2 separate regions of the Homo sapiens genome follow, and region 2 is linked to region 1. Evidence: fine-mapped QTL for protein levels in blood plasma. Region 1 holds a variant in brackets. A gene starts in the other region. All regions are shown on their reverse strands. Region 1 overlaps NSUN3 (NOP2/Sun RNA methyltransferase 3). Region 2 holds the start of C4BPB (complement component 4 binding protein beta).

The links. PIP is the posterior inclusion probability: the model's chance that the variant is causal. The UK Biobank Pharma Proteomics Project read protein levels with antibody pairs (Olink). The fine-mapping took linkage between variants from a reference panel, not from the people measured, so its PIPs are less certain.
Region 2: it holds the start of C4BPB, and the variant in region 1 is fine-mapped to the plasma level of the C4BPB protein (UK Biobank, PIP 0.92).

What each region holds. Positions count from the first base shown.
Region 1 is chr3:94,108,182-94,113,565 of GRCh38, reverse strand. All of the region lies in intron 5 of NSUN3 (NOP2/Sun RNA methyltransferase 3), which reads right to left. Among named protein-coding and RNA genes, the nearest start is that of NSUN3, 48 kb to the right of the region's middle. The variant C/T (reference allele first, on the strand shown) is at 2,748.
Region 2 is chr1:207,084,912-207,090,281 of GRCh38, reverse strand. It overlaps C4BPB (complement component 4 binding protein beta), which reads right to left and starts at 1,422. Exons shown (of 7, transcript NM_001017365.3): 1 at 1,336-1,422; 2 at 693-800. The coding sequence starts at 750. RefSeq lists an enhancer at 5,120-5,329.

The sequences.
Region 1 (5,384 bases):
TCTCTGAAGTCCCCCTTTAGCCTCCGCCTCCCCATCTGCCTTTCCTCTTTTTCATATCCCTTAAATATCAGTCTGCCCTAGAACTTTATCCTTCATTTCCTTTTTTACCTGACGTTAAGTGTGTTATATGTTACCTCATTCAATCTTTCAATTAAGTTCTGAGGCATGAATTATTATTCTTACTTTGCAGATGAGAAAACTAAGGCAAGACAGTTATTTGTACAAAATTTCTCTGGAAATGTCCAAACCAGGATTAAAATCCAGGCAATATAGTTCTATAGCTCATACTTTTAATGGCAGTTATCCCCTGCCATTCATTACGTAAGGGCTATGTCAACTACTTCTTGATTATTGTAAAATCTTTCAAACTGGCTTTCTTGCTTAAGAGTTTGGTTATTCTTGGGCCGGGTGCGGTGGCTCACACCTGTAATCCCAGCACTTTGGGAGGCTGAGGTGGGCGGATCATGAGGTCAGGAGATTGAGACCATCCTGGCTAACACAGTGAAACCCTGTCTCTACTAAAAATACAAAAAATTAGCCGGGCATGGTGGCGGGTCCCTGTAGTCCCAGCTACTTGGGAGGCTGAGGCAGGAGAATGGCATGAACCCGGGAGGCAGAACTTGCAGTGAGCCGAGATTGTGCCACTGCACTCCAGCCCGGGCCACAGAGCAAGACTCCGTCTCAAAAAAAAAAGAGTTTTGTTATTCTCTTCACATCTTCCAGCATTACCTGATCAAGGAATTTCCAACTTGTAGCAGACACCTCTAGTTACTCTTCAGTATCTGTTCTCATTTCCTTCCATAGTAATGGGATTTTTAATTGGGCACAGCCAAGGCTAATTTCCTAAACTGCCTTGTAATAACCATAACCATATGACTACGTCTGATCCATGAGATGTGAGTGGAAGTAATGTTGAATTATGCTTTGACTCCTTCCTACTAGTTGCAATGCAGATTAAACAGCAAGAACTGGGATAGCCACCCTGGATTGTGAGGTTGAAGATTAGGCCTGGATCCCTGATGATTCTGGAGTCTGGCCATCTACTGATTACCTAGACAACTCTGGGAAGCCTACTCAGATTCTTATTTAAGTCCCTATTATTTTGAGTCTCTTTCTCTCTCCGTTATATTAGAAGAAAAACTGTCTTAACTAATACTGAATTTGGTACCACGTGGAGTTGTTGTAGCAGAATCTAAGTGAAGAACTGCCTTAATAAACAAGTAACAGAGGGCAAGGTCACAAACACTACAGGTTAGAAAGCCAGTATGATGGCTAGATAATTTATGTTCAACTTGGCTGAACCATGATATTCAGATATTTGGTCAAGTATTATTCTGGGTGTGTCTGTGAGGGTGTTTTTAGATGACAGTAACATCTGAATTGTTAGACTGAGTAAAGCAGATGGCCCTCCATAATGTGGGTGGGCTTCAGTCAGTTGAAGAACTGAATAGAACAAAAGACTGACCTCCCTGGAACAAGATGGAATTCTCCAGCAGATGGCCTTTGCACTTGACCTGCGATGTTGACTCTTCCCTGGGTCTCCAGGCTCTAGCACATCCAGCAAATTTGGGACTTAGCCTTCATAGCTGTATAAGCCAGTTCCTTAAATCTCTCTCTCTCTCTCGATAGAAAGACAGGCAGACAGTGGTCCCATGAGATTATAATGCAGCTGAAAAATTCCTATCATCTAGTATTTACTATACTTTTTATCATTATTTAAGCAGGTCCTCCTTCTTAAAAAAAAAAAAGGTAACTGTAAAACAGCTTCAGACAGATCCTACAGGAGGTTACCAGAAGAAGGTACTGTTATCATAGATGACAGTTCCACACATGCCACTTCCCCTGAAGACCTTCCAGTGGGATAAGACATGGAGGTGGAAGACAGTGATATTGATGATCTTGACCCTGTGCAGGCCTAGGCTAAAGTATGTGTTTGCATCTTAGTTTTTAACAAAAAAGTTTAACAACAACAACAACAAAAAATTAAATTTAAAAATAGAAAAAAACTTATAGAATAAGGATATAAAGAAAGAAAATATTTTTGTACAGCTGTACAATGTTTGTTTTAAGCTTAGTATTAGAAATGTCAAAAAGTTATTAAAAACTTTAAAACTTTATAAAGTAAAAAAGTTACAGTAAGCTAAGGTTAATTTATTACAGAAGAAAGAAAAATATTATTTTATAAATTTAGTGTAGCCTAAGTGTACAGAGTTTATAAACGCTACAGTAGTGTACAGGAATATCCTAGGCCTTCACATTCACTCACCACTCACTCACTGACTCACCCAGAGCAACTTCCAGTCCTGCAAGCTCCCTTCATGGCAAGCTCCTTATACAGGTGTACAATTTTTTTATCTTTTATAGCATATTTTTACTGTACCTTTTCCATTTTGGTATGTTTAGATACACAAATACCACTGTGTTACAACTGCCTACAGTATTCAGTACAGTAACTTGTTGTACAGGTTTATAGCCTAGGAGCAACAGGCTATACCATATAGCCTAGGTGTGTAGTAGTAGGCTGTATCATCTAGGTTTATGTAATCATCTATGTTTGTACTATGATGGCTTCCCAAGGTTGTCCAGGTAATTAGTAGATGGCCAGACTCCAGAATCATCAGGGATCCAGGCCCAATCTTCAACCTCACAATCCAGGGTGGTTATCCCAGTTCTTGCTGTTTAATCTGCATTGCAACTAGTAGGAAGGAGTCAAAGCAGATATACACACACACACACACACACACACA[C/T]ATATATGTATATATGTGCATACATATATATGTGTGTGTATATATATATGCGTGTGTGTGTGTGTGTGTGTGTGTGTGTGTGTATACATGTATATCTCCACTCTTTTTCTCTGGAGAACTCTAATATAGTCAGTGATTCTTACTGTGCCATGCCAAAACATTTAATAAAATCATTGTTTATGATATCGTGGAAGAGAGACTATATACTAACAACATTTACATAACTCTAGGATAACTAGAAGAAAATTGTAACATGTTAGTGTATGTTAATGAGAGAAAGCTCAGGAAAGATCTGAGGGATTTGGATGCTGAGATGGAAGAACACAGCTCTGCTCAGGAATGCTCTCTGTGTGTTGAAATCCAAGCCTACTGAGAATTCAGCAATTTGGGCCTCACAGGGTTGAAAAGATTTTGTAACCCAAAGTTATCACTGATAACTTCCTATCACTGAAAGTTATCACTGATAACTTCCTATCACTGAAAGTTATCACTGATAACTTCCTATCAATGAAAGTTATCACTGATAACTTCCTATCACTGAAAGTTATCACTGATAACTTCCTATCACTGAAAGTTATCACTGATAACTTTCTATCACTGAAAGTTATCTCTAAGGAGGCAGCTCTTCCAGGAATAATACAGTGGCCTCAAGCCTTATTCATGCACTTCTAAGTAAATGTTCTTGTCCAGACAATGGGAGTTAAGCCAAAAGCAAAAATACCACTTTTACACCTGACCCAATAAAAAGGAGCAAACTTTTGAGACACACACTATGAATAAACTTCAAAAATACTATGCTGAGAGAAAAATTCCAGATAAAAGAGTACATGCTATTTCATTACCTTTTTAAGTTTGAGAACAGGCAAAACTAATCTATGGTAAAAAGAAATCAGAAAAATAACTGCTTTTGATGAAGGGAACAATGAATTCTGAAGGCGTACTCAGAATCTTTCTGGGGTAATAAAATGTCATATATCTTGGTAACTTTGCTATGTAATCGTCAAAAACTCCTTGAGCTTAGTGTACACATATATTGTTACACATCCAGTGGCTCAACATGTAGGTAAGGGCAGCAACTGTGCCCACAGCTCCTCCAGGAATCACAGGACCTTCCTTCAGCTCTTCCAAATTCTGGACCAGGTTCCTGTGCAGGTCCATGGTGGAATCCACCAACTTTTCTGCAGATCGCTCACATCATCAAACCGGATGTGCAGAGAAGAGACGTGTTTCATCTTTTGTCTTCGTGGATTCTAGTGTGTCTTTTACTCCCCGCTAACCTCACGTGCTAACTGCCAGCCCTGCTCACTTAAAGCCTACCACCAGAAGCAGTGACGCAATAAAACAGACTACTTAAACAGCTCCCTTAATTAAATAATATCTAATTCCAATAATAAATCTCTTATATCATTTGTGGAGATTTTACTCTGACCAAACTCCGATACATAGCTAGCAATACTTCTGCCCCTTCAAAGCAAGATAGACACTCTTGTGTAATTAACTACCAAATCAAGGAATTAAAATTATTTGCCTCTTCTTTCTAGATGCTCAGAAAGTTCTAATGCTTACACAAATTGCCACAAAAATCATAAAATTTCCTTTTAACTAGGTGAATGAGCTTGTAGTCACTTAGAAAAAAAGTGAATAAAAATGGTCTCTTCACCTAGACCCACTTCAGAGCTCAGTCTTTGAAACTTTCATTGATTCTCCATGGAATTTCTCCCTATTCTGTTTTTCCCAAGGAATAAATTTTTAGCTGCTTGAAAACAGGGTTTGTGTTGCATTCATTTTGTATTTTTTACATACAGCACAACCGGAAACTATATTTTTATAACATATTTATTAAATAAATGAATGGGCTGGGTGCAGTGGCTCACGCCAGTAATCCCAGCACTTTGGGAGGCCGAGTTGGGTGAATCACCTGAGGTCAGGAGTTCGAGACCAGCCTGACCAACATGGTGAAACCCCGTCTCTACTAAATACAAAAAATTAGCCAGGTGTTGTGGTGGGTGCCTATAATCTCAGCTACTTGGGAGGCTGAGGCAGGAGAATTGATGGAACCCGGGAGGCCTCCGCCTTAGTGAGCAGCAAGCTGAGATTGTGCCATTGCACTCCAGCCTGGGCAACAGAGCAAGACTGTGTCTCAAAAAAATAAAATAAAAAGGCCAGGCGCGGTGGCTCACACCTGTAATCCCAGCACTTTGGGAAGCTGAGGTGGGTGGATCACAAGGTCAAGAGATCAAGACCATCCTGGCCCAAATGGTGAAACCCCCATCTCTACTAAAAGTACAAAAACAGCTGGGCATGGTGGCGTGCGCCTGTAGTCCCAGCTACTCGGGAGGCTGAGGCAGGAGAATCACTTGAACCTGAAAGGCGGAGGTTGCAGTGAGCCAAGATCGTGCCACTGCACTCCAGCCTGGCAACAGAGCAAGACTCCGTCTCAAAATAAAATAAAACAAACAAACAAAAAACAAATAAATGCTACCTTTATTAAGAGGCAGGTCAGGAAGAGAATTTTCAGTGTAAAACAAAGAAAATATATTTAATTGAAACTAACAAAAATTCTGAATAGAGTTCTGCACATGTATCACAGAACTTAAAGTATAATAATAAAAAAAAGTAAACGTGGTGAAATGTAAA
Region 2 (5,370 bases), not on the chromosome of region 1:
CTTGGCATATCATGTGCTGTCAGAGAACCCTTATTAGATTTCCCCATTCTCATGTCTTTTTGCTGGATTATTGATCCTGATTCCTGTGCTCTTCCCAAGTACTCTGTATTCTACTCCCAAGTAGCCGGGACTACAGGCACCCGCCACCACGCCCAGCTAATTTTTTGTATTTTCAGCAGAGACGGGGTTTCACTGTCTTAGCCAGGATGGTCTCGATCTCTTGACCTCGTGATCCGCCCACCTCGGCCTCTCAAAGTGCCGGGATTACAGGCTTGAGCCGCTGCGCCCGGCCGGAATTCCGAAGTTTTATTTTCAAAAGTATAACAGGAATTTTACTCAAATTCAACCACAAGTTGTCCACTTCTAAACAAATAGTCCCCTACACAAATAGCGATCCTGGAGTTTATAACAAGTAAGACCTCCCAGGATTTTGAAATTGGTACTCTTTTTGCTCCCAGAACAGAAAGGGAAAGTAAAAAAACAGTAACCACCCACTTCAGAGATCAGGGTTATCATTAAATGTACACTAAGCTCCTATTGAGTGCAGAGCATTAGGCCAATTTGAGATTTTTCAATAGAAGAATAAAGATATTATAAATGTAAACTTCCTTAAAGCCCTAGACAGAGTTCCTCAAAACACCGCAAAAGGACACCAAATGCCTGTAAGCTGAGTTGAAGGAAAGCATACGTACCATCTGAAGCAGAAACTCGCCACGCAACCATAAGACAGCACGCACACCAAAAAAACATCTGGTGATCAAAGTCCTCTCCCCAGGCTGGAATTCACCCAGCTCAGACACCTGGTTTGAAAAAAAATAGATCTTCTAACACTGCTTAAGACCAACCTAACCACCTCCTCTCTAGAGAAGAGGTTATATTGATTTACCCTCCCTGGAGAAAATGAAAAGAAAAAATCTTACGACAGGAAATCAGAACAGCTGTAAGGAAGCTGGTATAGGGAGGAACTGCAAAAATACAAAGGGATGGTAAAAGAGTTGCCAGGTTTAAAACTCAGTTTCAGAAATTTCCTGGTTTCTGGGAATGCAAATCCAGTTGACCAGTCTTTTTGAAACGCAGGCTTATCCTTCCCCAACAAACATGGGCCAAATGGTCTTGCCATGACCTTGACTTCTGTCAATAGTTGCCAATGTTTACAGTCCAACTTCTGTAACTCTGGCCAGCACTGGGGAAAGAGAACGGGCTGTCAATCCCTGGTTCTTGCCCAGGTAGAACACAATTTTGAATGCTACCTCATCCTCCTTTCCTGAATACCAGATATCCTAAGGCTGTAAGCAGCACTGAAGACGAAAGCTCAAGGAAGTAAACTAACCTTACCTGTCTCTGTCCCTCCAGAGTTAGGGCTTCCCAGCAAGGAACTGGTCTTAACTGACTCCAAAGCTGAGAGCTCCAAAGTCCTGCAGTGACACATTGTTCTCGCTTGCCAGGCCTGTACCCAGGCTTCCTACTTTGTGGCTCTTCCAGGGACAGGATTTGGCCTGAGTCCAGAGTTAACCAAATGAGTAAAGAGAGAGGTGAGGAGAATGCTTTGGTCTCAGGAATTAAGGCATGTAAAATTGTTTTGAGGGATCCCATATCATCTTGCTTGTGACTACTATAACCCTTGGTTGGTTCTCTGTGCTGTAATTATGAAACTGGGGAAAAATTCCTACAAAATTTCAGGTTTTAATAGAATAATAAAGCATTAAGGACACAGTAAGGTTGCAAATGTTCTTCTCTTCTCCATCCATTACTACTGTTTGTGATGATTAATCTATGTCTTTCTCCTGAAAGGAATCAGGATATGCCACCCCCAAATATTTGGCGTTAAGATTCTTTTAAGCTGAAGATATTTGAGATTCAGTGATATGGAAAGGAACAGAGATTTTGGGGGCTTTCCTTATCTGACTAAAGGCAGCAACCTTGGAGATAAGGTTGCCATAAATTCCTTTTCAGGGTAGGTCTATCCTGGAGGGGAGAGCATGAGTAAAACATATTTCAAATTCCTTCTCCAGAGAAATTTCATGGCCTTGAAGGAGACAGAAAGAACACTCGTACTTATATACACAAACATTATCACAAAACTTTCTAATTTCCTACTTTTCCCCTGAAAACCCACTTGCCTTTCCAAAAAATAATCTGTTTTCTTTTTTGTTTGAGATGGTGTCTTGGCATGATCTTGGCTCACTGCAACCTCCACCTGCCAGGTTCAGGCCATTCTTGTGCCTCAGTCTCCCGAGTAGCTGAGATTACAGGCATGCGCTACCACGCCTGGCTAATTTTTGTATTTTTAGTAGAGATGGGGTTTCACCATGTTGGCCAAACTGGTCTTGAACTCCTGACCTCAAATGATCCACCCGCCTTGGCCTCCCAAAGTGCTGGGATTATAGGCATGAGCCACCGCACCCGGCCAATAATCTGTTTTCTTGTAAGTGCCTTTCTTCTCCCCACCTTCACCTATTAAGATGATGTATAAGCCCCAATTCTAACCAACTTTTTGAATTACTTATCACTGAGTTTTCCCACATGTACTCAAGTTACATGTATAAATAGAATTTTCTCTCCTGTTAATCTGTCTTAGTCTAATTTGCAGGTCCCAGCCACTGAATACAATATGGTAGAGGAAAGGTGTTTTTTTCCTCCCCTTTATTCCCACAGGAAACTGCTAACTCCAGGACAGGGTTTGTGTCTGATTTGTATTTGTATTCCCTTCCACGGTGCTTCATATTGCAAAGCAGTTGTCTGTTAAATGAATGAAAGTAATGCAGAAATAAATGAAAAAAACTGTCATCCAGAAACTCTACCACAGCCCCCAAAATCCATATGATCACTTGCCATTTATCACATGCTGCCTTATGATTTTTTATGTCTTATCTTTTCTTAACTAATATGCAAATTCCTATAGTGTAAGCACCCTCTAAGACATGATTTTCAAAAAGTTAAAAATATGACACAAGTAAATATAAGATGAATATATATCAAAGATTTAATTCAACTCATTAATTAATGAGGAAACATTCAGATGCTACAACTGGTTCAAAGAAGAATTTGAGGAATAGGAATGCATATAGTCAGTCAGTCAAAAGCATTCTGAAGTGACCTTTCCAATAGATACAAAACTGGTTAATATCCTACAGAGTAACAAACTGTAATATTTGCAATTAGCTTTTCTACCTGGTGGAAAGTAATTAAAACAAAATGGACAAAATATATTTGCTCTACTATAACCAGGAATCATTTGCATTGTTCTCAGATAAGAGTCATTTGCATTCCTATAAATTTACTGCAAATTAACCTCTATGCTTAAAGAGTTCTAAAAGAACTTTAAATAAAGTCAGTCAGAGATCATCTCCAGAGGGCCTGCTAGAAAATGCCCAGGAATCCATTGAGCATTTACTCCAGTGATCTCTTTTTGCTAATCCTAAGCTTTGAATAATTTTTATTTACATACCCCATGTTCTACTTCTTGAGGAATGCATGTTCTTCAGTATCTTTTATAGATTTATATACAGAATGTTTGTACAATAAATTATTTTAAAAAGGAAGGAAAATCTAGTTTAGCCCTACATAAATATGGACATAAAATAGAACATGTATTACAGGAAATAATTGCAAGTAATTCTTCATCTTAATGGCTTACTTCAGATTCAGAACTATAGGACTTTAGAAACCATATCACTTATACTATTGTCTTACTAATATTTCTCCATAAAATATAAAAATACAAAAATATTCACACTAAGTGGGCTCTATAGAGACAATAAATAGCATCACAAAGTTTGGGTCAGGTTTTTTCTGTCAAATGAATTAGAAGAAAACTTTGTCTCAAAGGTTTTTGGATTTTAGAATTAGAGATTAAAGAAAGAAACAGAGAGTGATTGAGAGAGAGAAAGAGAGTAATATGGTGGGTCTTGGGGGAGAGGCAGAATCAGAGATAGATGCAGAGAGATAGAGATGCTTAGGAAGGGGTGTCTGGGGACTCTGAAGGACAAGTCTCCACCTGGCACTGCCATTGTCCCCCGCCCCAATCCCACTCTTCCCTCCTCAGCCCTCTCTCCCCACAGGATGAGCAAGAGCATCAGAGACAGAGATGGAGACAAAAGACAGACAGAGGAGACACTGACAGAGTGAATCAGAGAGAGACAGAGACAGAGGAATTTCTCCTCTTCTCTCTGCCTCCCTCCTCCTCTCCCCAACACCTCCCCCTTCACCACCTTCCTGCCTCCCTCTGCTCCCCTTCCAAGCCTGCATATTCTTCAGGGCTTACCCTCAGCTCCAGGACAGGGTCCTCCTGGGGCTCCTGATGGGTGAATATTTACACCACAAGAGTAAATAAAGATTACAGGCTTATATATTTTACTATTTGTATCCAAAATTAGGCGAATTAATAAATGAGCGTTAGCAGGCTCTTCTATTCCTTTGAACATTAAAAGATAGTTGGATCTATGCCAGATCGTTTCCTGGAGAACTGGGGTAATAGATCAGGTGAAACTGTTGTTCTCAGACTGGCTTCATTGCTTTACAATGGAATGGGCAAGCTGGGCATAGTGGTTCACACCTGTAATCTCAACACTTTGGGAGGCCGAGGCAGGTGGATGGCTTGAGCACAGGAGTTCAAGACCAGCATAGCAAGACCTCATCTCTATAAAAAATAAAATTTTATATATATTAGACAGGCATGGTGGCATGTGCCTGTAGTCCTAGATACTTGGGAGGCTGAGACAGGAGGATCACCTGAGTCCAGGAGATCAAGGCTTCAGTGAGCTGTAATTGCACCACTGCACTCCAGTGTAGGCAACAAAGCAAGAACCTGTTTCAAAAAAACAAATAACAACAAAACACAAAGAAATGGGCAGATGGTAGTTAAAGGAAGAGATCAGGAGGTGAGGAAGGAAGAGTAGAAATATAAAAGTCAGCAATGCCCAATCTGGGGGAAGAGTTGTGGGAAGTTATAAAAGGGGCACACACATTGCAGTGTGTGTAAGATTTTAAGAGAATTCAGGAAAGACTATTTTAAGAAGTTCTACAGGGTGTCATGAATGGATTCCCTTTGGTCTTTGTCAAGAGAATTCAGAAAAGATTTAAATTGCTCTTTTAATGTTTTTTACACGTTGGGTTGATGTTTCCCCAATGCCTGACCAAAACAACCTGGGCCAGAAAAGTGTGGGGGGCGCACAGCCACATACTCAAACTTATGTACAAGGCATTTGAGGTTGGGGCATGGAAAAATGCTGAGGCACTGTGTGTATGTTATTTGTGCATGAGAATATAATTCCTTGACCCTGAAAACAGGACAAGGAGTGGAGTGTGTGATAAGGAACGCTGAAAACAGCCTCCTGAGAATGCGGTTTGAGTGCTTTGACAAGGCCACAG